5 linked regions of the Homo sapiens genome follow. The protein of the gene in region 4 purifies or fractionates together with the protein of the main gene of each other region. This does not show direct contact. Each region holds a gene or a part of one and is shown on either strand. Other genes may lie near its edges.

Evidence for each region.
Region 1: the proteins of ZNF736 (region 4) and PPM1G purify together in Homo sapiens (co-immunoprecipitation; one large-scale study listed by IntAct). This does not show direct contact.
Region 2: the proteins of ZNF736 (region 4) and USP34 purify together in Homo sapiens (co-immunoprecipitation; one large-scale study listed by IntAct). This does not show direct contact.
Region 3: the proteins of ZNF736 (region 4) and IPO7 purify together in Homo sapiens (co-immunoprecipitation; one large-scale study listed by IntAct). This does not show direct contact.
Region 5: the proteins of ZNF736 (region 4) and IPO8 purify together in Homo sapiens (co-immunoprecipitation; one large-scale study listed by IntAct). This does not show direct contact.

The regions. Positions count from the first base shown.
Region 1 is NC_000002.12:27,385,538-27,390,431, forward strand, and holds part of PPM1G (protein phosphatase 1G), read right to left. Parts: intron 1,622-4,894; coding exon 1,552-1,621; intron 743-1,551; coding exon 657-742; intron 343-656; coding exon 210-342; intron 1-209.
Region 2 is NC_000002.12:61,211,744-61,216,637, forward strand, and holds part of USP34 (ubiquitin carboxyl-terminal hydrolase 34), read right to left. Parts: intron 2,952-4,894; coding exon 2,317-2,951; intron 187-2,316; coding exon 29-186; intron 1-28. UniProt on the Homo sapiens protein: Ubiquitin hydrolase that can remove conjugated ubiquitin from AXIN1 and AXIN2, thereby acting as a regulator of Wnt signaling pathway.
Region 3 is NC_000011.10:9,386,668-9,391,561, reverse strand, and holds part of IPO7 (importin-7), read right to left. Parts: intron 1-4,894. UniProt on the Homo sapiens protein: Functions in nuclear protein import, either by acting as autonomous nuclear transport receptor or as an adapter-like protein in association with the importin-beta subunit KPNB1.
Region 4 is NC_000007.14:64,343,963-64,348,856, reverse strand, and holds part of ZNF736 (zinc finger protein 736), read right to left. Parts: intron 768-4,894; coding exon 1-767. UniProt on the Homo sapiens protein: May be involved in transcriptional regulation.
Region 5 is NC_000012.12:30,664,342-30,669,235, forward strand, and holds part of IPO8 (importin-8), read right to left. Parts: coding exon 4,842-4,894; intron 1,911-4,841; coding exon 1,834-1,910; intron 1,505-1,833; coding exon 1,388-1,504; intron 969-1,387; coding exon 879-968; intron 1-878. UniProt on the Homo sapiens protein: Involved in nuclear protein import, either by acting as autonomous nuclear transport receptor or as an adapter-like protein in association with the importin-beta subunit KPNB1.

The sequences.
Region 1 (4,894 bases), on a different chromosome or scaffold from region 4:
AATGCTTACAGCTCAGATGCCACTCAACGAAGATAATTCTCTCCCTCCTTTTCATAACCACATACAATGCAGGAGAACATCATAGGTTTCTTTAACATAAGGACTCCCCAGGTCCCTAGAAAGCCATCCTATCTTAGAATTGATAAGTAATATTAAAGAATATTTCTTAAAATGCTGATTTCCCCTCAAACAAGGGATGCCACACTCACCATCATCTTCATCAGCTACTTTTTCTTTTTCATCTTCATCCTCAGTGGGTCGCCCTGCAATCTGTGCCAGCTCTTTAATGACTTCTTCAGTGGTCAATTTGGCGTCAATAGCCAAGAAGGCATCTTCTAAAGCCTGAATATAAGCAAAATAGTCTAAGACTAGTACAAAATGAACTCCCTATATACAATCCTGAGCACAAGGATGGAATACAAATTAAGAGTGTGAGCCACCACACTAAGAGACACTCACAGATAAAAACAGCTCAGAGGCCTAGGAATAATAAGGCAAGTCTAAAAGGCGGCCAATAAGCTCGTTTTAGGAACAGAATTCTTCAAGAGTAAATAAGCAGCAGCAGCTAGAGGACAAAAAGAAAGGAAAAGCCCAAGGGCTAGAGAACAAGGGAAAAGCCTACACAAGTGAGGAATGGGCGGTGTAAGCAGACAGACCTTCTGTAGCTTGCCTTCCTTGTAGGCCTTCTGATCTTTGATGATATCAGGAAGATATTTGGCACAGTACAAGGCAACTTCCTCCCCTAGAAGGAAAGGAAGGAAGGTCACCTGGAGCACTGCTCCCCACACATAGAAAGTGATACAATATTTATATGCCATACTGGAGTGAACCCCAAGGGTTGAGGGGATAAATATCTTAGCACCCCTGAACCCTATTTGAAGGACACTGTTTGGGGAAGTTCTGATCCAAAAAAATGGATTTCACCATCAATTCTCTCGGGTATAAATATCTCGTCTTTTCTCACCTGTATACTTAGTTCTCCAGTGAAAAAAAGATAAAGAATCAGCTCAACTGGGTACACTTTTTTGTTTTTTAAGACAAGAGTCTTGCTCTGTTGCCCAGGCTGGAGTGCAGTGGCATGGTCTTGGCTCACTGCAACCTCCACCTCCCAGGTTCAAGCGATTCTCCTGCCTCAGCCTTCCGAGCAGCTGGGACCACAGGCGCCCACCACTACGCCCAGCTAATTTTTGTATTTTTAGTAGAGATGGGGTTTCACCATATTGGTCAGGCTGGTCTCGAACTCCTGACCTCGTGATCCACTGTGCCGGGATTACAGGTGTGACCTACCGCGTGCCCAGCCTAAAAATTTTAAAAAATAAAAATAAAAAAAGATAGAGGCTCTTTGGATTAAAACAAGTCCTGGTGAGATTATAAACCAATACAGTACCTACTGGGAAAAAAGAATGACAGAATACAGAAAAACAGCACCACGCAGGAAATGATAATGAGGGCCAGACCCTGGAAAGTAAATGAACAAAGGGACCTGTTCTTGCCCTGGAACGTCTGGAATTGGGGTCCTAGAATGTTACCAATATGATCTGTTAAAGTTACCTCCATGTCCATCGTAGACAGAAAACATGGCTGTCTCACTGTCCAGCTCAGGAATACAGTTGTGAGCATCCTAGGAAAAGAAGAGCATAATCGGCATGTCTCAAGGTCGAAGAATATTCCTCAGGTCATAGGGATCAATGTCACCCCTTACTAACCTTTCCCTGGCTGGCCTATATGGCCTAGAAATAAGAAAGGAAGAAGGAATGATAAAATAAATACAGAGGAAGAAAAGAGGAGGGAGGCAAAGGAGGAAAGGGGAAGGAGAAAAGGAAGAAAGAATCAGGTTACTACCTCTATAATAACCTCAACCTAGGAGATATCTCAGTCCAGATGGCAGAATATTTGGCTACTGGAAATAAACCTGACCCTTTTGGATCTGTGGAAGCTACGGGAAAACCAGAATAAAGGATTTTTTCTTCTTTTTTTTTTTGAGACAGAGTCTCGCCCTGTCACCCAAGCTGGAGTGCAGTGGCGCGATCTTGGCTCACTGCAACCTCCGCCTCGTGGGTTCAAGCGATTCTCCTGCCTCCGCCTGCTGAATAGCTGAGATTACAGGCATGTGCCACCATGCCCGGCTAACTTTTGTATTTTTAGTAGAGATGGGGTTTCACCATGTTGGTCAGGCTGGTCTCGAACTCCTGACCTTGTGATCTGCCTGCCTCGGCCTCCCAAAGTGTTGGCCAGGCTGTACACAGCTTTATTTATTTATTTATTTATTATTATTTTTTGAGACGGAGTCTCGCTCTGTCGCCCAGCCTGGAGGGCAGTGGTGCGATCTCTGCTCACTGCAAGCTTCGCCTCCCAGGTTCACGCCATTCTCCTGCCTCAGCCTCCCAAGTAGCTGGGACTACAGGCACCCACCACCACACCCGGCTAATTTTTTGTATTTTTAGTAGAGACGGGGTTTCACCTTGTTAGCCAGAATGGTCTCGATCTCCTGATCTCGGGATCCACCCGCCTCAGTCTCCCAAAGTGCTGGGATTACATAAGTGAGCCACCGCGCCCGGCCTACAGCATTATTTATAATAAAAAACAGTTGAGGCCAGGCGTGGTGGCTCACACCTGTAATCCCAGCACTTTGGGAGGCTAAGGCCGGCAGATCATGAAGTCAAGAGATCAATACCATCCTGGCCAACATGGTGAAACCCCGTCTCTACTAAAAATACAAAAATTAGCCAGGCGTGGTGGTGTGCGCCCGTAGTCCCAGCTACTCGGAAGGGTGAGGCAGGAGAATCACTTGAACCCCGGAGGTGGAAGTTGCAGTGAGCCAAGATCACACCACTGCGCTCCAGCCTGGGTGACAGAGTCAGACTCCGTCTCTAAATAAATAAATAAATAAAATAAAAAACAGTTGTAACCATCTAAATTTCCAGGAATAGATTACAAATGGTACGTAACTCCAGTGGAAATGTAGCTGTTAAAAGCAAATATATGTTAATTTGGAAATGAGTTCACAATATCTTAAGTGGTTAAAAGCAAAAAGTTAAAAAAGTATCTACATGTGAGGACGGCCACAGTGGCTCACTCCTGTAATCCCAGCACTTTGGGAGGCCCAGGCAGGCGGATCATGAGGTCAGGAGATCGAGACCATCCTGGCTAACATGGTGAAACCCCGTCTCTACTAAAAATACAAAAAATTAGCTGGAGGTGATGGTGGGCGCCTGTAGTCCCAGCTACTTGGGAGGCTGAGGCAGGAGAATGGCGTGAACCCAGGAGGCAGAGCCTGCAGTGAGCCGAGATTGCGCCACTGCACTCCAGCCAGGGCGACAGAGCAAGACTCCGTCTCAAAAAAAAAAAAAAAAAATTATCTACATGTATATGTGAGTCTGGAAGATCACATAGCAAACAACCACAGAGGGTGAGATTTGGGTAATAATTTCTACTTTTCGACATTCATTTTTAAATTTTTGTACAATAAACCACATTGTTCCATTCTGAATAAGGACAACAAACACACCTAAGAACTGGCCTCAAGTTGCCATTCTACCATATACTGCATGATCTCTGGTCAGCTACCTTATGGTGTGCCTCAATTTTATCCTCTGTGATGTGGAATTACAATATCCACCACATCCACATCATCACAGAACTGTTGTAATGATGCAAAACACATAAAAGCCCTTTGTAAACTGGAATTTGCTACATAAAAATATATATATATATACACACACACATACACATATATGTATATTCTGCTCTGAAATTTAGCACCCATTTCACATTTTTCTTTTTTGTTCTTTTTCTCAAAGAGGACCACCCACAATAAAGATTCGTCTTACACCTTGAGGTCTCAGTCCTGAGAACTATCGCACAATTACCCTCTCCTTCACTTCTTGGTGAGGCTTGGGATCTATATTATGATTTGGAACTGTTTCACCTTCCCTAAACACTTTAATTTGCCCCCTTTACATGTCTGCTCATAACCTTTACCCACACCTTTGCTTCTCTCTATCCCTTACTGAGACAGAGCCAAGTATTTCAACATGGTCTCTTAGAAATCTAGAAAAACTCACCCAACCTTGTATAACCCCACCAACTGATTTATGCCTGAATCAGAACTACTAAGTTTGCTAGTCATAAAATGTTATGAGATTGGCTAGGTGCGATGGCTCACACCTGTAATCCCAGCGCTCTGGGAAGGTAGGCAGGAGGACTGATTGAGATCAGGAGTTGGAGACCAGCCTAGGCAACATAGCAAGACCCCGCCTCTACAAAAAAATTTTAAAGTTAGCCAGGCATAGCAGCATGCACCTGCAGTCAGTCCTAACTACTCGGAACACTGAGGCAAGAGGACCACCTGAGCCCAGGAGGTGGAGGCTGCAGAAAGCTATGATGCACCACTGCACTCCAGCCTGGGTGACAGAGGGAGACCCCATCTCTAAAACAAAACAAAGTTATAGGATCACATTGACTGTGGTAATTACTTCATTTCAGCATCTTGTTTTCTTTTTTTTTTGAGATGGAGTCTCCCAGGCTGGAGTAGAGTGGCGCGATCTAGGCTCACCATATCCTCCACTTTCCAGGTTCAAGCAATTCTCCTGCCTCAGTCTCCTGAGTGGCTGAAATTACAGTGGGCACCTGCCACCACGCCCAGCCAATTTTTGTATTTTCAGTAGAGACGGGGCTTCACCATGTTGCCCAGGCTCTTCTCAAACTCCTGAGCTCAAGTGATCTGCCCAGCTCGGCCTCCCAAAACGCTGGGATTACAGGCGTGAGCCATTGCAACTGGCCAAACACAGAAATTATCCTCTCTTCCTAGATTAACATTTTTTCTTAAACTCCTGATCTCAAATCCTTCTCCTTCAAGGTCTTACTACACAGAGAATGTAATAACCTTAACAGC
Region 2 (4,894 bases), on a different chromosome or scaffold from region 4:
CAAGACAAAACTAAAAACATCTTTTTACCTTATTAAAGTAGTCCAGCAGGAGCGGCCATCTAAGCAACGTAAGTAACAACTTATGGTTGTTTTCTTGAACTGTTTAATATCTTCTAATTCTTCTTCTCTCATATCTGGCCTCTGAGCTATAAACAGCTGCATCAGGTTAAACAGTTCTTCTACTGCCTAAAAAAGCCAAATAAGCCATATGATCTTTTAACCCTATAGCATTTTAGAAGGTCAGTTTCTCATTTCTACGTTCATTAATCAACTCTTAAAATTATACAAATAAGCTAGATTATACTTCCATTCAGAAAGTTATAAAATCAGTAACAAATTCTATTTAAAAAATTTTGGCTGGGCGCAGTGGCTGATGCCTAGCACTTTGGGAGGCAGAGGCGGGCAGATTGCCTGAACTCAGGAGTTCGAGACCAGCCAGGGCAACATGATGAAACTCTGTCTCTACTAAAATACAAATAATAACAATAATAATAAACACTAAAAGAACTCAACAAATCTTAAAATACAAGTTTAGAAAGAGTAAAAACTGTAAGTGAATACAATTCATTTTTAGTCTTATTACTGCTTAAAGCACTACTTTTGTAACTTCAAATGTAAACCCAGAGGCATGCCACACCATCTCCTATCCACTTTTTCTTTAATTAATGAGAAATCATTACTTTGTCACAAAGATTTTAAATGCCTAAATAACCCTTAAATTAATAGTGTATATGAGGTAAACCTTTGTTCCAACATTTAAAATGCTTTTCTAGAATGATGCTCAGTTCAATTTCCTGATGAATAAAAAGTAAAAACAAATATTTTAGTAAAATCACTAGCTGTGATTTTATAGACTCATATGCACATGTCAGGAGAGGACTGCTCTTCTAACACATACTTGTCAATGAACTGAAACCCCCAGCTTCTTATTTTTCAAAGCAAAAAACTGACTTAAGTACCATTTTCATGAAAATTTCTAATAGATAAGGACATTCTACAATAAAAGACATTACATTTCACTGATGTCAAGGGCAATAAATAACATGGAGGGATAAATTCTAACTCATCTAGTACTTGTCAAAGTATATTTAATTCTGGACATCACATCTAGTAACTAGATCAAATATTATTTATGTGAATATGATAGAGACAAATTTACTGAAACTTAATAAATCCTATCCCGACCCCTTTGAAGTCAGAAAGATTGATATTTTGTATTCTTATGGCATTGGTTTTCAATTTCTTGGTACTTGTACACTCACTCTCTTTCCTGCATTGTAGGGATTCTGATTTTTTCTTTTGAGACAGAGTCTTGCTTTGTTGCCCAGGGTGCAGTACAATGTCTCAATGCAGCCTCAACCTCCTGGGCTCAAGCGATCCTCCCACCTCAGCCTCCCAAGCAGCTGCGACTATAGGTGCACACCACTACTCCCAGCTAATTTTGTATTTTTTGTAGAGATGGAGTTTTGCCATGTTGCCCAGGCTGGTCTTGAACTGCTGGGCTCGAGTGATCCGCCTCTGCCTCCAAAGTGCTGAAATTACAGGTGTGAGCCACTATGCCGGCCTGGGATTCTAATTTTCTCTGACTAGAAATTAGGTTATTCTTCCCAGGTGTGAGATTCTATACAACTCATTACACCATCTAGAAAAAAAAAGACCGTCTATAAAGGACGGTCTGTCTTTAAAGTACAGTTTACAACAGAGAATAAGAGGCAACAGTGAAAAGTTATTAACCAGGTTTGACAGCTTTACATCGAGGGGAGGAAACTTAATATAAAACCTACAAGTAAGTGTGCAGAGTAAAAGGGACCCAATTTAGACTGCATATATATGTATCTCGATTGATCTCTTAAGCATTTCATTTGTTTGGATGCAGCTTGAGAAAAAATACTGCGGAATACTACTAGTTTTAGATATAAAATTGTCTAGCTCACAGTTTACCACAGCATGTAGATTTTGCTAAGTATCTGATTTTTAAATAGCAAAGTACTCAATTCCTTAAAACTGTACCATGAAGCTGGCTTTTTTCATTAGGCACACATGAAGAATACATTTACAAAACCACAAATTAAAAAACAGGTAAGTTTTACTGGATATGCAACTTTAACTTCACCCTAAGAAAAGTTATCTACACAGTTATCAATTTTATAACAACACAGCATTTTATATATGTATTTAAGAAAACAAATACACATTAAGTTCTTAAGAAAGAATGGTGAGACTATTCTATATTCTGCCACCACTTCCCACCAGGGGAAAAACAGGTATTTCCAATCTATTTGAGGATACAGATAAAAGAGTATCAATTTTACTCACTCCAGGGTATTGGCTGGCATGTGGTGTAAGATTCTTAAAGGCCCACTGGATGTTCTGGTGAGAAGCCAGTTGTCGTGTGAATGCAGGAGACTGCTCACAGCAGAGCCTCAGAATGCCATAGTACGCTGGCAGCATCCCACGGTTAAAAAGCACCACATCCTGATCATCATGGTCAGCAAGGATGTAATTGAAGGCAATGTTCTTGGTTACCACTGGGTTCTGAACAATAAGGCGGATATTCTCTGGACAGTCAGCACAGACATTGTACCAAAATGAAAGCAAAGCCTGTTTATTGTGATTTGTAGCTATTGCTGGCTCAGAAAGTTTAGGCTGGAAAAGGTTCCACAAATCCATGAAATATGTGGAAAACATCAGCTTCTCAGTTTTGGAAATTAAACAGTAAGTCATAAAGCTAAAATAGGGCACTAGCTTTGTAGTGCCATGAACAGCAGCATCAACATAAAGTTTGGCTCTTGAGAGCAAACCAAGGAGCACGTTGTAGACCTGATGTAGGACTACTGTTGTGTCTGGACTGAGTGGAAGGTCACGGGTTGGGATGTGCAAAGACCTTGTTGACCGGAACATCTGACGGAATGAATTGCTTGGTATAAGGGACACCAGAAGATAAGCTGCAGCTATAAAATGTAAAACAAAACTGTCAGATCCTTGTAAGATATAAAATAGACTGAACAGCAGTCATTAATCACAAAGCCACTGTTCCCTTTAATAATTAAAATGAATAAAAAGGGACATGAACATCTCTTTTAGTATCTTTCTGCTTTCCCCTTGGCCCCACAAAAAGATCCCAAGAGGTGATAAAAATAGATACCTTCTATTCTGCCATTGTTATTTTTGAAGTGGCAATAATTTTTAAACCACTTTTCTTTAGCTTGCCTAAGATGCAGAATTTTCCCACTTTATCTTTTATTTCTTCTCAGGAAGTAGTATGATTTAACAGAGGGAACCCAGCATTTGCAGTCAGAAGACCTACCAAAAGGTACCTGAGGAGGTCAAATCATTCAATGTTCTACAGTCTTAGTTTTCTTCTTAATTGAAAAATAATGATAATTTACTTTGTAATAACATACAGATATGGTAAAATATACTTGTTATAAAGAAAGAAATAGATATACATAAAAGTTCAATATATAAGATTACATATATGCTAATTATAGAACATTAACTTTGGAAAATCTTTAAAAGTCTTCTAAGGCTAACCTTACACCAAAGGAAAGAACTGGGTGTTAAATTGTAACCAGATAATATATATTTAAGTTATAAAGAAAGAATGAGATATACATAAAAGTCCTATTTGATTACATATATGCTAATTACAGAACATTAACTTTGGAAAATCTTTAGAAGTCTTTTAAGGCTAAACTTACACCCAAGGAAAGAACTTGGTGTTAAACTTATTAAGCCTATGTTATAATGCTGAGGAGTTAGTGACTTATTAGTTGCGCTAACCTGTAAAAGCAGTTACTATCAACAAAGCATTGACCTAGGTGCTGTATAAACTTCTCATTTAATCCTCACAATGACCCTGGATGGAGGTAACAGTGCTCTGGAAAATCTGAATCTTGGAGAAGCAAAGACCAAGGTCACACAGATAAAGAGGTGGAGGCTAGATTTTGCCTTGAGAAACAATGATGATGATAATGATAATGGTAAAACAATAATAGTAATAACTATAATAAGAATTGTGAGCCTTTACCAAATGTATACTATTTGACGTCATAACTTTATGTGGCAGGCATTGCATTTATTATCCCCACTTTCACTCAGGCTTACAACAATGGGACTATCTCAGCTTACACAGCTAGTGGCCAGAGCTGGGATTCAAATCCAGCCAATCAGATTCACAGGCTAATAATGCTCCTAACATTCACTATGGAACCTCCTCAAGACTCTCTAATGTCTGAGTTTGGGTTCTTTTCAGGACAACCATTATTTGTCTCCCCCTATTCTAACTATAACTTGATAATTTCCATTGTATTGTCAAAGCAAACAAAGTTAGGGTTTCTAAAATTAATTTTAGTTTATTTTACAAATTTATTTCCAAATTAAACTTTGTGCACAATACTCCATTTTCTAGATATTTCTTTACCTATATACTAGTCTGCTTAGTCAGAATTTTTAAGGCTCAGTTTGTTATGTGTTTCAAATATAAAAACCTGGCATGTAGGTATCATCCTGATCAATTTTTGCATAAAACTTCAATCAAGAAAAGTAATTTACGATTTAAAAAAGCCATTTGGCGGCTGGGTGCGGTGGCTCATGCCTGTAATCCCAGCATTTTGGGAGGCCAAGGCGGGCGGATCACGAGGTCAGGAGCTCGAGATCATCCTGGCTAATATGGTGAAACCCCATCTCTACTAAAAATACAAAAAATTAGCCAGGCGTGGTGGTGAGCGCCTGTAGTCCCAGCTACTCGGGAGGCTGAGGCAGGAGAATGGTGTGAACCCGGGAGGCAGAGCTTGCAGTAAGCCGAGATTGCGCCACTGCACTCCAGCCTGGGTGACTGAGTGAGACTCCATCTCAAAAAACAACAAAAAACAAAAAACAAAAAAACCATTTG
Region 3 (4,894 bases), on a different chromosome or scaffold from region 4:
CTAATTTTCTGTATTTTTAGTAGAAATGGGGTTTCACCATGTTAGCCAGGATGGTCTCGATCTCCTGACCTCATGATCCACCCACCTCAGCCTCCCAAAGTGCTGGGATTACAGGCGTGAGCCACCATGCCCGGCCAGAACTTTTATTTTATTTTTCTTTTTTTGAGGCAGAGTCTTGCACTGTTGCCCGGGCTGGAATGCAATGACGTGATCTTGGCTCACTGCACCTCCGCCTCCCGGGTTCAAGTGATTCTCCTGCCTCAGTCTCCCAAGTAGCTGGGATTACAGGCACCCACCACCACACCCGGCTAATTTTTCATATTTTCAGTAGAGACGGGGTTTCACTATGTTGATCAGGCTTGTCTCGAACTCCCGACCTTGTGATCCGCCCACCTCGGCCTCCCAAAGTGCTGGATTACAGGCGTGAGCCACCGCATCTGACCTCCAACTAGGAACTTTAAAAAAAAACTTTTTTATTAGAAATCATTTAGCAGCCGGGCGCTGTGATTCATGCCTGTAATCCCAACACTTTGGGAGGCAGAGGCGGGTGGATCACCTGAGGTCAGGAGTTCAAGACCAGCCTGGCCAACAAGGTGAAACCCCATCTCTACCAAAAATACAAAAATTAGCCAGGAGTGGTGGCGGGCGCCTGCAGTCCCAGCTACTCGGGAGGCTGAGGCAGGAGAATTGCTTGAACCCAGAAGGCAGAGGTTGCAGTGAACCAAGACTGCGCCACTGCATTCCAGCCTGGGTGACAGAGCGAGGCTCTGGCTAAAAAAAAAAATTTTTTTTGTATGTTGCCCAGGCTGGTCTCAAACTCCTGGACGAGCGATCCTCTTCCTGCTTTTACCTCCCAAAGTGCTGGGATTACAGGCGTGAGCCACTGCGCCCAAACTCTTTCAGATCTTTAACAAGCTATATCATTGAATAACTTGCTATCTAACAGCCGAAGTATCCAGGGACTTTCCTTCTCCCAAATTCAGAACAGTACTTCAAAATATTCCTGGTGAAGGAATGTTATCTAAACTACAGGCTACTCTGGTCTTCCTAAAATATTTTGCTTAATTTCTAAACATTCCAAATTATCTTACAAATATGCCATTATTTTACACTTTTCCAGACCTAAGATTTTCATTAAATACTTTTAATAAAATGGAATCAAATGAACCATTTATAAGTAAGGTATATCACATACAGCAGTAATAGTTAACCTTTTGTGACAATCCCAAAAGTGATCCAGGGTAGTGTGAGTTAAAAAAAAAAAAACACACACACACACAAAATATCAAGAAACTTACCAAAAGCAAGATCACTTTTTCATATAAAGCAAGTGAGAAAGTAGCACTGCTGCCTGTACATATAAAACCATTAGGCCGGGCACGGTGGCTCAGGCCTGTAATCCCAGCACTTTGGGAGGCCAAGACGGACGGATCACCTGAGGTCAGGAGTTCGAGACCAGCCTGGCCAACATGGCGAAACCCCGTCTCTACTAAAAATATAAAATTAGGCCAGGCGCAGTGGCTCACGCCTGTAATCCCAAGACTTTGGGAGGCTGAGGTGGGCAATCACCTGCAGTGAGGAGTTCAAGACCAGGCTGGCCAACATGGTGAAACCCCGTCTCTACTAAAAACACAAAAATTAGCCGTGTGTGGTGGTGCATTCCTTTAATCCCAGCTACTCGGGAGGCTGAGGCAGAATTGCCTGAACCCGGGAGATGGAGGTTGCAGTGAGCCGGATGGCACCAATGCACTCTAGCCTGGGCAAAAAGAGCGAAACTCCACTCAAAAAAAAAAAAAGGTGTATATACATATATAACCATTATATACCATATTGAGCTTAGGAACTAAGAGTTTAAATGTCTCCTGGGTAAACCCTCTAATTCCACTTACAGCATTTTTCTTGACTGCGAATATAACAGGGGAAAGACTATTGATGCGGAGATCATATCCACCTTAGCCAAAATCAGATCTAATAGTTTCGTCATCCAAAACTTACATGTAGCTTTATTATAGTACTGACCACATGTATTGTATGGGCCAGTGACGTGGTGATTATGGAGCTCTAGAAAGGCAGTGATCATAAATTTCTCTGCATCTAACTACTTAGCTCAGTGCCTAGCACACAGACATTTGCTGTTACATGAACCAGACTGGGAATTATCCTTCGGAATGAGTATTTAATAAAAATCTTCCTGGCATTATATTTAAAAACACCGGCTGGTGTGGTGGCTCATGCCTGTAATCTCAGCACTTTGGGAGGCCAAGGTGAGTGGATCACTTAAGGTCAGGAGTTCGAGACCAGCCTGGGCAATGTGGCGAAACCCCGTCTCTACTAAAAATACAAAAATTGGCCAGATGTGGTGGCACCTGTAGTCTCAGTTACTCAAGAGGCTGAGGACTGAGAATCGCTTGAACCTGGGATTGGAGGCTACAGTGAGCCAAGATCATGCCACCGCACTCTAGCCTGGGCAACCGAGTGAGAACCTGCCACAAAAATACTAATAATAATAATAATAAATTTTAAAAAATAAATAAAAGAGCTAAAGCCTATACTGTTATTTATTAATATTATAACAGGAAGTCAGTCATAAAGCCTATTACTGGGAAATCAAGGAATAACAATAACAAAAAATAACAATTCATGACCTCAAGAAACTTAAAATTATAGTGGGGAGAAGAAAAGTTAAGTAAAATTAGGCCAGGCGTGGTAGCACGTGTCTGCAGTCCCAGCCACCTGGGAGGCTCAGATGGGAGGACGCTGCTTGAGGCCAAGAGTTCTAGGCTGTAGTGTACTATGTAGTGCAGTGGAGCCCACTGCACTCCAGCCTGGGTAACATAGCAAGGCCTTAGCTCTGAAAAAATTAAAAATAAGCCTGGGCAACACGGTGAAACCTTGTCTCTACAAAAAATACAAAAATTAATTGGGCATAGTGGCACATCCCCGTAGTCTCAGCTACCTGGGAGGCTGAAGTGGGAGTGTTGCTTGAGCCCGAGAGGGAGAGGCTGCAGTGAGCCATGATGGTGCCACTGCACTCCAGCCTGGGTGATGGAGCAAGACCCTGTCTCAAAAAATAAATATAAATAAATAGGCTGGGCATGGTGGCTCATTCCTGTAATCCCAGCACTTTGGGAGGCCGAGGTGGGCGGATCACAAGGTCAGGAGTTGGAGACCAGCCTGGCCAACATGGTAAAACCCCATCTCTGCTAAAAATACAGAATTAGCCAGGTGTGGTGGCAAACGCCTGTAATCCCAGCTACTTGGGAGGCTGAGGCAGGAGAATTGCTTGAACCCAGGAGGCAGAAGTTGCGGTGGGCTCATATTGCGCCACTGCACTCCAGCCTGGGCAACAAGAGCAAGACTCCGTCTCAAAAAAAAAAAAATTTATTTATTTATTTATTTTTATTTTTATTTTTTGAGACGCAGTTTCGCTCTTGTTGCTCAGGCTGGAGTGCAATGGTACGATCTCGGCTCACCGCAACCTCCACCTCCCGGGTTCAAGCGATTCTCCTGCCTCAGCCTCCCTAGTAGCTGGGATTACAGGCATGCGCCACCACGCCCAGCTAATTTTGTATTTTTAGTAGAGACGGGGTTTCTCCATGTTGGTCAGGCTGGTCTCGAACTCCCAACCTCAGGTGATCCGCCCGCCTCGGACTCCCAAAGTGCTGGAATTCCAGGCATGAGCCACCATGCCCAGCCAATGTTTTAAATTTAATTAATTAATTAATTTTTTTGAGATGGAGTCTCACTCTGTTGCCCAGGCTGGAGTGCAGTGGCACGATCTCAGCTCACCGCAACCTCCGCCTCCCAGGTTCAAGCGATTCTTCTGCCTCAGCCTCCTGAGTAGCTGGGATTACAAGCATGCGCCACCGCGCCCAGCTAATTTTGTATTCTTAGTAGAGATGGGGTTTCTCCATGTTGGTCAGGCTGGTCTCAAACTCCCAACCTCAAGTGATCAGTCCGCCTCAGCCTCACAAAATGCTGGGATTACAGGCGTGAGCCACCGTGCCTGGCCAAATAAAATTAATTTTAAAAGTAAGCCAAATATGTATGACAAATCAGTGCTATAGAGAAAAACAAGTGAAAGGAGATAGGGAGTATGATGGTCAAGGAACTCCTCAGTGATAAGGAGACATTTGAACAGGGATGGAAGGAAATGAGAGAACAAGTTAGGGGGATAACTATGTGAAAGGAGTTCCAAGGAGTTAAGTGCAAAGACTCTGAGGCAGAAGGGCTATTTTGTTTCGAAACTGTCTATACTATAAACACTTTAATAACATTTACAAATTTTACATTGAGTCAGTGATTATTTCACTTTGTGAAGAGATTCATTCAAATGTCAATGATCTTATTCTTTGGTTCTAAATGAACCAAAACACAGCTTCACTGGAATGAGAGACATCATAGAATAATTCGTTCTTCTATCTTCTCCAAAGCAAGAGCCTTTCAGAAATGTTACTTCCTCATTCTTAACAATATTCAAGACTTGTCTGAGATCTGTCTCCCAAATCAATGTTCTGCCACAAGAAAGTCAAAGCAAAAAATATTTAAATGGAAGAAGGGAGAGGGAGAAGTAGTGTATTAAAATGGAATGAAAGTAAATATACTAATAGAAAATTTACCTTAGGAAGAATATTTAAAAATCTAGGTGTTATAATTGAAAGAAATGTATGAAATGTAAATAGTTAAGGATTACAAAAATAAAGGCCATGTAACAAATTTTCTTTGACAGATTAGCGGTGTTCACTGTTTGACAGTATTCCAAAACAGTAGTTTAATGGTTAAGTAAAAAAGGCATTGAATACTATTTTGATCATTTGTTTATCTTCCAAAAACTAGCTTGTGAAATACCCCAGGTTTCTACTACAAGATGTTAGTGCATATACTAGACATGTAA
Region 4 (4,894 bases):
ATGTTTACTAAGGGCCGAGAACCACTTAAAAGCTTTTCCACATTCATTACATGTGTAGGGTTTGTCTCCAGTATGAATTATCTTATGTTTAGCAAGGTCTGAGAACCACCTATAGGCTTTGTTACATTCTTCACATTTGTAGGGTTTCTCTCCAGTATGAATTCTCTTATGATTAGTAAGGTCTGAGAAGCACTTAAAGGCTTTGCCACATTCTTCACATTTGTAGGGTCTGTCTCCAGTATGATTTCTCTTGTGTTTAACAAGGGTTGAGGAGCAGGTAAAAGTTTTGCCACATCCTTCACATTTGTAAGGTTTCTCTCCAGTATGAACTCTCTTATGTTCAGTAAGGTTTGAAAACTTTTTAAACGCTTTGCCACATTCTTCACATTTGTAGCATCTCTCTACAGTATGAATTTTCTTATGTCTAGTAAAATCTGAGAACAACCTACAGTCTTTGCCACATTCTTCACATTTGTGGCATTTCTCTCTGCTAAAAATGTCTTTATGTTCAGTGAAGATTGAGCACAACTGAAAACCTCTGCCACATTTATTACATTGACAGGTTTTGCTATGGGTAGCTGACAAACATTGATGAAGGCCATTATAACTGCTTTTCTGCCCCTTGCAATTACCCACACTTTGGTAGTCTTTCTTTAAATGTAAATTATTAAGGTCACAGCTTCCATATTTTCTCAGAATCACTTTTTGAAATGAATCTTTTATGTCATGATCCGGCAATATCTCTGCAGTAAAATGAAAAGAACCAGCTGGAGAAAAAAAATAAAATTCTCCCTCATTAGACTCAGGTGAATATACTTCACAAATATATAATTATACAAAGCAATTAATAAAACGATAATAAAATACCACAGGCTCTATATTCTTATAGACATATAAACCTAACAGAAATATACTGACCAAAATGCCTTTGTGAGAAGTCTAAGAACCAGTTAAGCATTTGCGGCACACCAAGTGAGCAAAACGCCAAGAACCACATAGAAGTGTAATAAAAGTATTTCATATTTACCCACCACAGCCATTCTTCATCCTATGATGACTCTAACTATAGACTCCAAACTCCTGTCTACCCCCTCCAAAAATAAATAAAATAGTGGCACATGTGTCCATGCTTCTGGCTTATTGAGACCTTACCAAAGACTAATTTCTATATTCCATGACAGTGTTGAAAGGAAAGGTGGTATGCACTGACAGTTTCGGACAGCTGAGACCAAAGGTAAATGACTGTTACAAGAGAAGAAAGACTTCAGTATCATAGACAGACAATGGGTATAGCAAGTGACTAAGGGATCTCAATAAGAAACATAGGGAATGGCCAGGAGTGGTGGCTCACACCTGTAATCCCAGCACTTTGGGAGGCTGAGGCAGGCGGACCACCTGAGGTCAGATGTTCAAGACCAGACAGGCCAACATGGTGAAACCTTGTCTCAACTAAAAATACAAAAATTAGCAGGGCGTGGTGGCAGGTGCCTGTAATCCCAGCTACTTGGGAGGCTGAGGCAGAAGAAAGGAGAATCGCTTGAACTCAGGAGGTGGAGGTTGCAATGAGCCAAGCTTGTAACATTGCACTCCAGTCTGGGCAACAAGAGTAACACTCAAAAAAAAAAAAAAAAAAAAAAAAGGCGAACATTTTTTAACTAAAAAACACACAAGCTCAGAGAAAACATCCATAGAACAGGCTTGAGAGACTCCAAGACTCCCTAGCCTAAAAAATTGGTATCATATTCCCTCAGACAAAAGTCACTTAATACAGATTTTGACATGTGGCTTTTTATTATACAAATTGCAACATTACAACATAAACAAAACATCAAGATAATATGGCTCAAAGAAAAAAAAGAATATCCAGAAATCAATTATTAAAAAAAGGAGATGTAAAAATTATGTGAGACAATTTGAATTAAAGTCTTGATCTATTTTTTAAAAGAAAAAAATAAATTACCCTAGAAAATCAAAATTACATCTCAATGATGCTCAATGAGTAAAATGGAAATTAAAAAAACAAAATGAAATAACAAAAATGAAACCAACAAAAAGATAAAAAGCACAGAAAGAAATAAAAATTGTGTAGTAGAACTACAAAAAAAGACTAATATGCACTTCAACATTAGTAAAAAATATAAGAAAATCAAGAAGCTCAGCAAACTTCAACTAAGATAACACAAAGAGATTTCTAACAAGACATAACACAAGCAATGTTTTAAAAGTCGCAGACAAGAAGAGAATCTGGAATTCAGGAAGAAGAAAGAGACGTGTTATTTATATGCATGCTTCTGCAAGATTACGAGTAAATTTAAGAACATAAATCTTTCAGGCAAGAAGGGAACAGGATGACATAGTTAAAGCACTGGAAAAAAAAAAAGTCTAAGCAAGAATACTATATCCAGCAAAAGTATCTTCCAAAATGAAAAAAAAAATCTAACTATATCATGACATATATCAAGATCTACATCAAGATCTAACTATATCATGTCTTCAAGAGATTCACTTTAGATCTAATAAAAAAAAAAGACAAAATGGCAGGATGAAAAATACATTTTATGCAAGTGTTAACCAAATGAGAGAAGAGGCAACAATTTATTAAGTTGAAAATGGTCATATTTCATATAATTTACTTTAAGTCAAAATTCACAAGAGACAAAGTAGGACATTCAATTATAATAAGAGGGTTCATTCACTGAGAACCTATAAATACAAGACAGTTTTCCCAAACACATAAAGCAAACATTGACGGAACTGAAGCAAAAATAGACAGCAATATAATAATGGAAGGAAACATCAACATCCCACTTTCACTAATACATAAAGCAAGACAGAATATCAATGAGGGAACAAAAAACTTGAATGTACTATAAAATAATTACACCTAACAAATGTATACAGACAGCAGAATACACATTCTTTTCAATAGCTCATGAAACATTTTCCTAGATGGATGACCTGTGACACCACAAAACAAGTCTTAACAATTTTTTTAATTGAAATTTTACGGACAATTATTTATGGTCCAAATGGAATGAAACTAGAAATCAGTAACAGAAGAAAAGCTGAAAAATTCAAAAAACATAAAAATTAAACAACACACCTTTTTTTTTTTTTTTTTTTTAAGATGGAGTATTGCTCTGTCACCAGGCTGGAGTGCAGTGGCACGATCTCGGCTCACTGCAACCTCCACCTCCTGGGTTCATGTGATTCCCCTGCCTCAGCCTCCTCTCCTGAGTAGCTGGGACTACAGACATGCACCACCACGCCCAGCTAATTTTTTGTATTTTAGTAGAGACAAGGTTTCACCATGTTGGCCAGGATGGTCTCGATCTCCTTACCTTATGATGTGCCCACCTCGGCCTCCCAAAGTGCTGGGATGACAGGCATGAGCCACCGCACCCAACCAACAACACACTTTTGAGCATGCTCTTTTTCAAGGGTTGGAAGACATAACATTGTGAAGATGTCCATGCTGCTTAAAGTGACCCACACATTCAACACACCCTTTTCAATTTTCAATTTTACTTTTCCTGGCCGGGCACAGTGGTTCACGCCTGTAATCCCAGCACTTTGGGAGGCCGAGGCGGGCAGATCATGAGATCAGGAGATCGAGACCATCCTGGCTAACATGGTGAAACCCCGTCTCTACTAGAAAAAAAAAAATTAGCCAGGCGCGGTGGCGAGCAACTATAGCCCCAGCTACTCTGGAGGCGTCGGCAGAAGAATGGTGTGAACCAGGGAGGCAGAGCTTGCAGTGAGCCGAGATCGCGCCACTGCACTCCAGCCTGGGTGACAGAGCGAGACTCCATCTCAAAAATAAATAAATAAATAAATAAATAATAAAATAAATTTTACTTTTCCAAAAAGAAAAAAAAAACCCACAAAATTACATAAGATCTCAAGGTAACATGAAAAGCCTGACAATCTTTAAAAAGAAGAAAAATATTGGAAGCATTATGCTTAACAATTTCCAAACACAAAACAAAACTACATCAATCAAAGCACTTTGGTACTGGTATAAATGTAGAACACCAAAGTAATGAAACACAATGCAGCACAGATATAAACTCTTGAATATATGGTCAAGTGAGTTATTTGTACACCATATTGAAGCATTATCCACAAAAGCCAATAGGTAAAAGCAATTTAAACTTTCCTTACCAAATTAATCGATAAATATAATTTAAAATATAAAAAAGGGAATATTAATCAGCTTTTTAAAAGCAGGAAATCTTCTAATATCTATTATAAAGACAAATTTTGAAGACAACATGCTAAATTAGTAAGCCAGCCACACACACAAAAATACTGTATGAATCTACTTACATGGAATATGTAAAATAGTTACATCCTTAAAAACAGAAAATAGAATGATGTTTGTAAAGGGCCAGACAATGGGAAAAATGAGTAGTGGATTCATGTGTATAGCATATTTCTTTTACAAAAATAAAAGTTCTAAAGATATGTTGCTAAAAATGTCAATATACTTAACAAAGCTGAACTATATAACTGAAAATATTAAAGAGTATACATTTTTTAATTTTTATTTTTTAGACAGAGTTTTGCTCTTGAAGCCCAGGCTGGAGTGCAGTGGTGCCGTCTTGGCTCACTGCAACCTCTGCCTCCCAGGTTCAAGTGATTCTTCTGCCTCAGCCTCTGCAGGAGCTGGGATTATAGGCGCGCACCACCACACTTGGCTAATTTTATATTTTTACTAGAGACGGGGTTTTGCCATGTTGGCCAGGCTGGTCTTGAACTTCTGACCTCAGGTGACCTGCCCACCTTCGCCTCCCAAAGTGCAGGGATTACAGGTGTGAGCCACCATGCTCGGCCCTTGTATTTCTTACACTTAAGAATAAAACAATCATTGACTACTAACAAAAAAATAAAA
Region 5 (4,894 bases), on a different chromosome or scaffold from region 4:
CTAGTGTACAAGGCATTGTTAATATATGTTGTTTTTAGCAAGACATTTTTGTGTTGATATATTTATAAAGAGAAATGCTAGGCTCTTGAATAAAAGTCCTGTTTCTATTTCTCCATAAAATATATTGATTCTAAAAGAATATACACATAGAGCACAATTTCACATGGATTATTAATCTCTCCATTTTACTAAGGCAAATCTACCTAATATACTGAAAATCAAATTCAAGTTCTTAGCCAATCTGGAATTTCATGTCATTTTATACACAAAATAAATCCATTTGTGAATTTAAATTGTATCACTGCTATAAAATCACCTTTCTCATTTCATGTTTTACATATGCAGCAAGTGAGGCTAGGGTGACAAATGAAATAAAACCAGCAGGAAATAAAATCCATAAATATTTTCCTTTTTTTTTGAGACAGGGTCTCACTGTTGTCCAGGCTGGAGTGCAGTGGCACGATCTCAGCTCACCGCAACCTCCGCCTCCCGGGTTCAAGCAATTCTCCTGGCTCAGCCTCCCTAGTAGCTGGGATAACAGGCGCCTGCCATGAAGCCCAGCTAATTTTTTGTATTTTTGTAGAGACAGGGTTTCACCATGTTGGCCAGGCTGGTCTCAAACTCCCGATCTCAAGTGATCCGCCCACCTCAGCCTCCCAAAGTGCTGGGATTACAGGCATGAGCCACTGCGCCCAGCCTATAAATCTTTTTCTTTAATAGTCTGTCCTTTATTCAGCTGATGTGACCATAGGCAGACATTCTAATTGACTCTATTTCATCTCAATATGTGGCAAAAGGTCAATTTATCCAAAAAACATTTATTTGAATAATTATCTTATGAAGATTTAAGATACATAACAGAAATATGAAAAACTTACTCTAGCTCGAAGATATCCCAGGTTAGACAATAATAATGGAAATACATGATTTTGTAGAAACAGCTCCATTTGGTCCTTGAATAAACTCTTCTATTAGGAAACAAATTTCAACTTATCAATTTCTTTTTCATACGTAAGAATCACTTCCTAATCAAGTGTGTTTACTATGACTTGCATTTAATATACTTCTAATTTTGTAAAATTATTTGACCTATATATTGCATGTTTTAAAACAAGACAAATATTACCTTATATCAGTTTGATATTGATTGATTTTGTAGACATAAGATACTTTGTATCCCTTTCACATATCAATAGTTTCATACTGAAAACTTTAAACAGTCAAATTTTCTTTTTAATTAAAGAAATAGATGACAGAAAGGAGGATAGTTGTGAACTCAATTATCCAGAGGTAGTCACCAGCTTTAAATTAGCCATAACTTTCATATTCTCTCATTTGCCTGTACTTTACAATGTTATTAAGTAAATTAAATTTTGATTATCTTAACCTTCAGTAAAATCTCAGCTAGGGAACCAATCACATGCAGGGCTCCATCTTTCTTCCTAGGGTCAAAGTTCGGGTCTGTCAGGATTTGATAACAGAATGCCATCATTTTTGGCAACACCTAAAGAAACAGAAGAATCCATTTAGTCTACATGAACTTTCATTGTCTTACTATAGTATTAACTATGATGCACAAATTTTTAAAAATAAAGCCATTTTATTATGTTTTATCAAGCAACTATAAGCTCAATAAGAAAAGTATAATTTATTAAGAAAACGAAATAACCATGATACCCCCTTTCCCCTCACCAGGAGAGGAAAAAAAAAATCCTTAAGGTGACAAATTATAACGAATAACAACATAATTTCTCAAATACTAGGGATATACTAGAGTATCAACTCAACACAGGCCACCTTTCAGTTTTGGATTTAAAAAGAAAAATGAAATACCTCTTTTCTTTTCTTTGCAGCAGTATATAAGAGAGTCTGGGCTGCTGTGGTGGGAGAAGCATAATCTTCAAAAATATCTAAGATTTTAAAAGGTTAAAACCATGTTAGTGAAAATATAATTACTTATTCTAGATTTTAAACCTGACTGACCGCTATTCCAAACCAAAAAAATAAAACCATCCACATATGACACTGCTTGACAGTACTAAAAAGGTAAGGATATACAGTGGCACCACAACATTGCTGTCTCCTGCACAAAACAATGTTCCTCAAACTCTACAGGTTGTCCTTTCAAACTATTATATTGAAGAAAACAATGCATTTACACATCTGTTTCACTGAGAACAGAAAAAGTGCTTTATTTCTATCAAAAAACAACAAAAATTCACTCAGCTCTTACTATGTGCCAGGTACCATTCTAGACCCCGGGGATACAAAGATCAAACAAAAAGGTTCTCACGGAGCTTATGTCGTGAAACAAAGAAACACATTATACATATATACACACATAATAAGTCAGGCTAAGAACAAATGTAAAATAGGGTAAAGAGACAGAGTGACAGAGTATGGGGTGCTAGTTTAAATAGGGTGTTAGCAAAAGCCTCTCCAACTCTGTTAAGGTAACATTTAAGCAGAAATTGAATGAAATGAGGGAGAAAGCAATCCATGGATAAAGTACTCCAAGCAGGTGAAACAGCAAGTATAAAAGCCTTGAAGGACTGCTAGGACCATGCCTGGCTCTGTCGATACGTAAGTTCAGCAGGTTTTGTTGAATATATACCTATCTAAAACTTAACATATCACTTAATACCATGAACATTTTCACAAGTTTCAGAATAGGCAGTTTTACATAAGAAACTGAAGTCTTGAGAGGTATCTGATAAGTCCTTGTTTAAATACAAAAGATAAAACCAAATCTAAGTCTACCTCAAAATATAAAATACAAACATAATAAGAACATTTTTGGAGTACTGTACTTACTCTGTGCCAAGCAGTATGCTACAGTTTTAGAAGCATCTTGTATTCTATGCTAAGCAGTTAGTTCATGTGTATTATCCCATTTAATCCTCCCAGCACTATTATCATCACCCGTTTGACAGCTGAAAGCACTGAATTTTAGAGAGGTTAAGTAACCTGTCCACAGTCACACAGCAGGTAAGTGACCAAACCAGCATTCACACCCACGCTATCTTAACATCAAAGCCTGAGCTCTTGTTAGTTCTTACCAAATCAAAAAACATTATTGGGGGAAGTGAGGAGATGTTGGTTAAAGAGTAGATAAAAAGAATAAACTAAAACATTATTATTAATCAGTCAATACATTTAGATAGGAATGCTTTGTTTCACGTAAATAATTGCAAGTGCCAAACATATAAAAAGAAAATGCAGTAATTGTTCTTCCCTATGGTTACCCAAAAGTAAAATACACATATCAAATAAAAGCCACTGCATTCCAGTCTACAGAAGGAAACGATTAAAGAAAACTCACTTCAGCTAGTCAGTCTTGAGTTACCCATATCCGCTTTTAAACAATAAAATGTAAATTCCCACTGTTAATCAACAGACATAGAGTTCTTATTTTCTAAAAACTAGGGTATGTATACCTATCTTATCAGATATGAAGAATATATAAATAATGGTAACTTTCTGAAAGCTAAACAAATACTCTGTACATCACAAAAACACATAGGTATTATGAAAGAAGTAAACACTAAAAGAATGCCTTGCAAGGCAAGAGGATCACTTAAGCCAGGAGTTCGAAACCAGCCTGGGAAATACAGGGAGACCCTGTCTCTGCAAAAAATAATTAGCCAGGTGTGGTGGCACATGCCTGTGGCCCCAACTACTTGGAGGCTGAGGTGGGAGAGTCACTGGAACAAAAAAAAGAGAGAGAGAGAGAGAGAGAAGAATGGTTGGCTAATCACTCAAAGCAAACTAGAAAAACAAAGGCATAAGAAAGGGGAAATAATAAGTTACACATATGAATAATGATTTTCAAAAGAAAAATAACAAATCAAGCAGATGATAAATGTTTCTCATTGATTTGCTTTTCTGATACTTTGTCTCCAAGAGAAAACAGGATCCTCACTTACTGAATCAAATAATATAAACACAAAGCTCTGTAAAAACACAGCCCAAAAAACTAGCATCTGTACCAGTAGGTTTAGCTTACGTAGCTAGACACACCTGGCTCAACTAAGGGGAAAGCACTGCTTCATTACAGCACTTTCAGCACGCAGCGCTAGATTTAGCAATCATTTCTTTCAACATGTATTGAAGGCATACTGGAGGCCAAGCACTAGTGGAGGAATGCAGAGGTGTAGAAGAGACAGAAAATGCAAAATTAAGCAAATAAGGTAAAATTCCTGTCCTGAGAAAGCTTCTAAGTTGTGGGAGATAGGTATGCAAATTAATATTTTGCTATGTTAAGTGCTTGAGTGTTCCATGAAGCAATTAATACAAACTGGGAATAAAAGGGAATAAATCAGGCCACCTACACAATTCAACAGTTTCCAGGAAGATCCAAGTTAAAAGGACACCCAAAGAATTGGACCACACACAGTAGGGCCCCCATACGAAATTTATTTCCCTTGTGGAACACTTAGTCTCTCAGACAAGCAAGCAAACCAAATTGGGGTACCCCTAAAATATGCAGAAATCCAAAGTATTTCCCACATGAGAACAACCCAATCTATAAATGAGTCTCCCAAAAGGCACAAAAACGGATGGTCCCTGCAGATCAGCATCGCAACAGCATAAGTAACAGATGGCTCAACTTGAGCACCCGTAAGAGAGATGAATGAGGTGGCTTTTCATCTCCCACATCCGACAATCTCCAGTTCTCTAGTTCAACAAAATAACATCAAACTCTCAAAGTTTCAGATTATGTCATGCAAAACAGAACCTGGGAGATTTAATAAAGTAATAACATTTGCTTAAAAATATAAATTTAGTTATATTACTTTACATATCCAGGAACTGATGAGAAATAAAACCATCTCAATTACCAAATTTCATCCTTATATACTCATATGGATCTTCTTGCCACAGCTCTTCATCC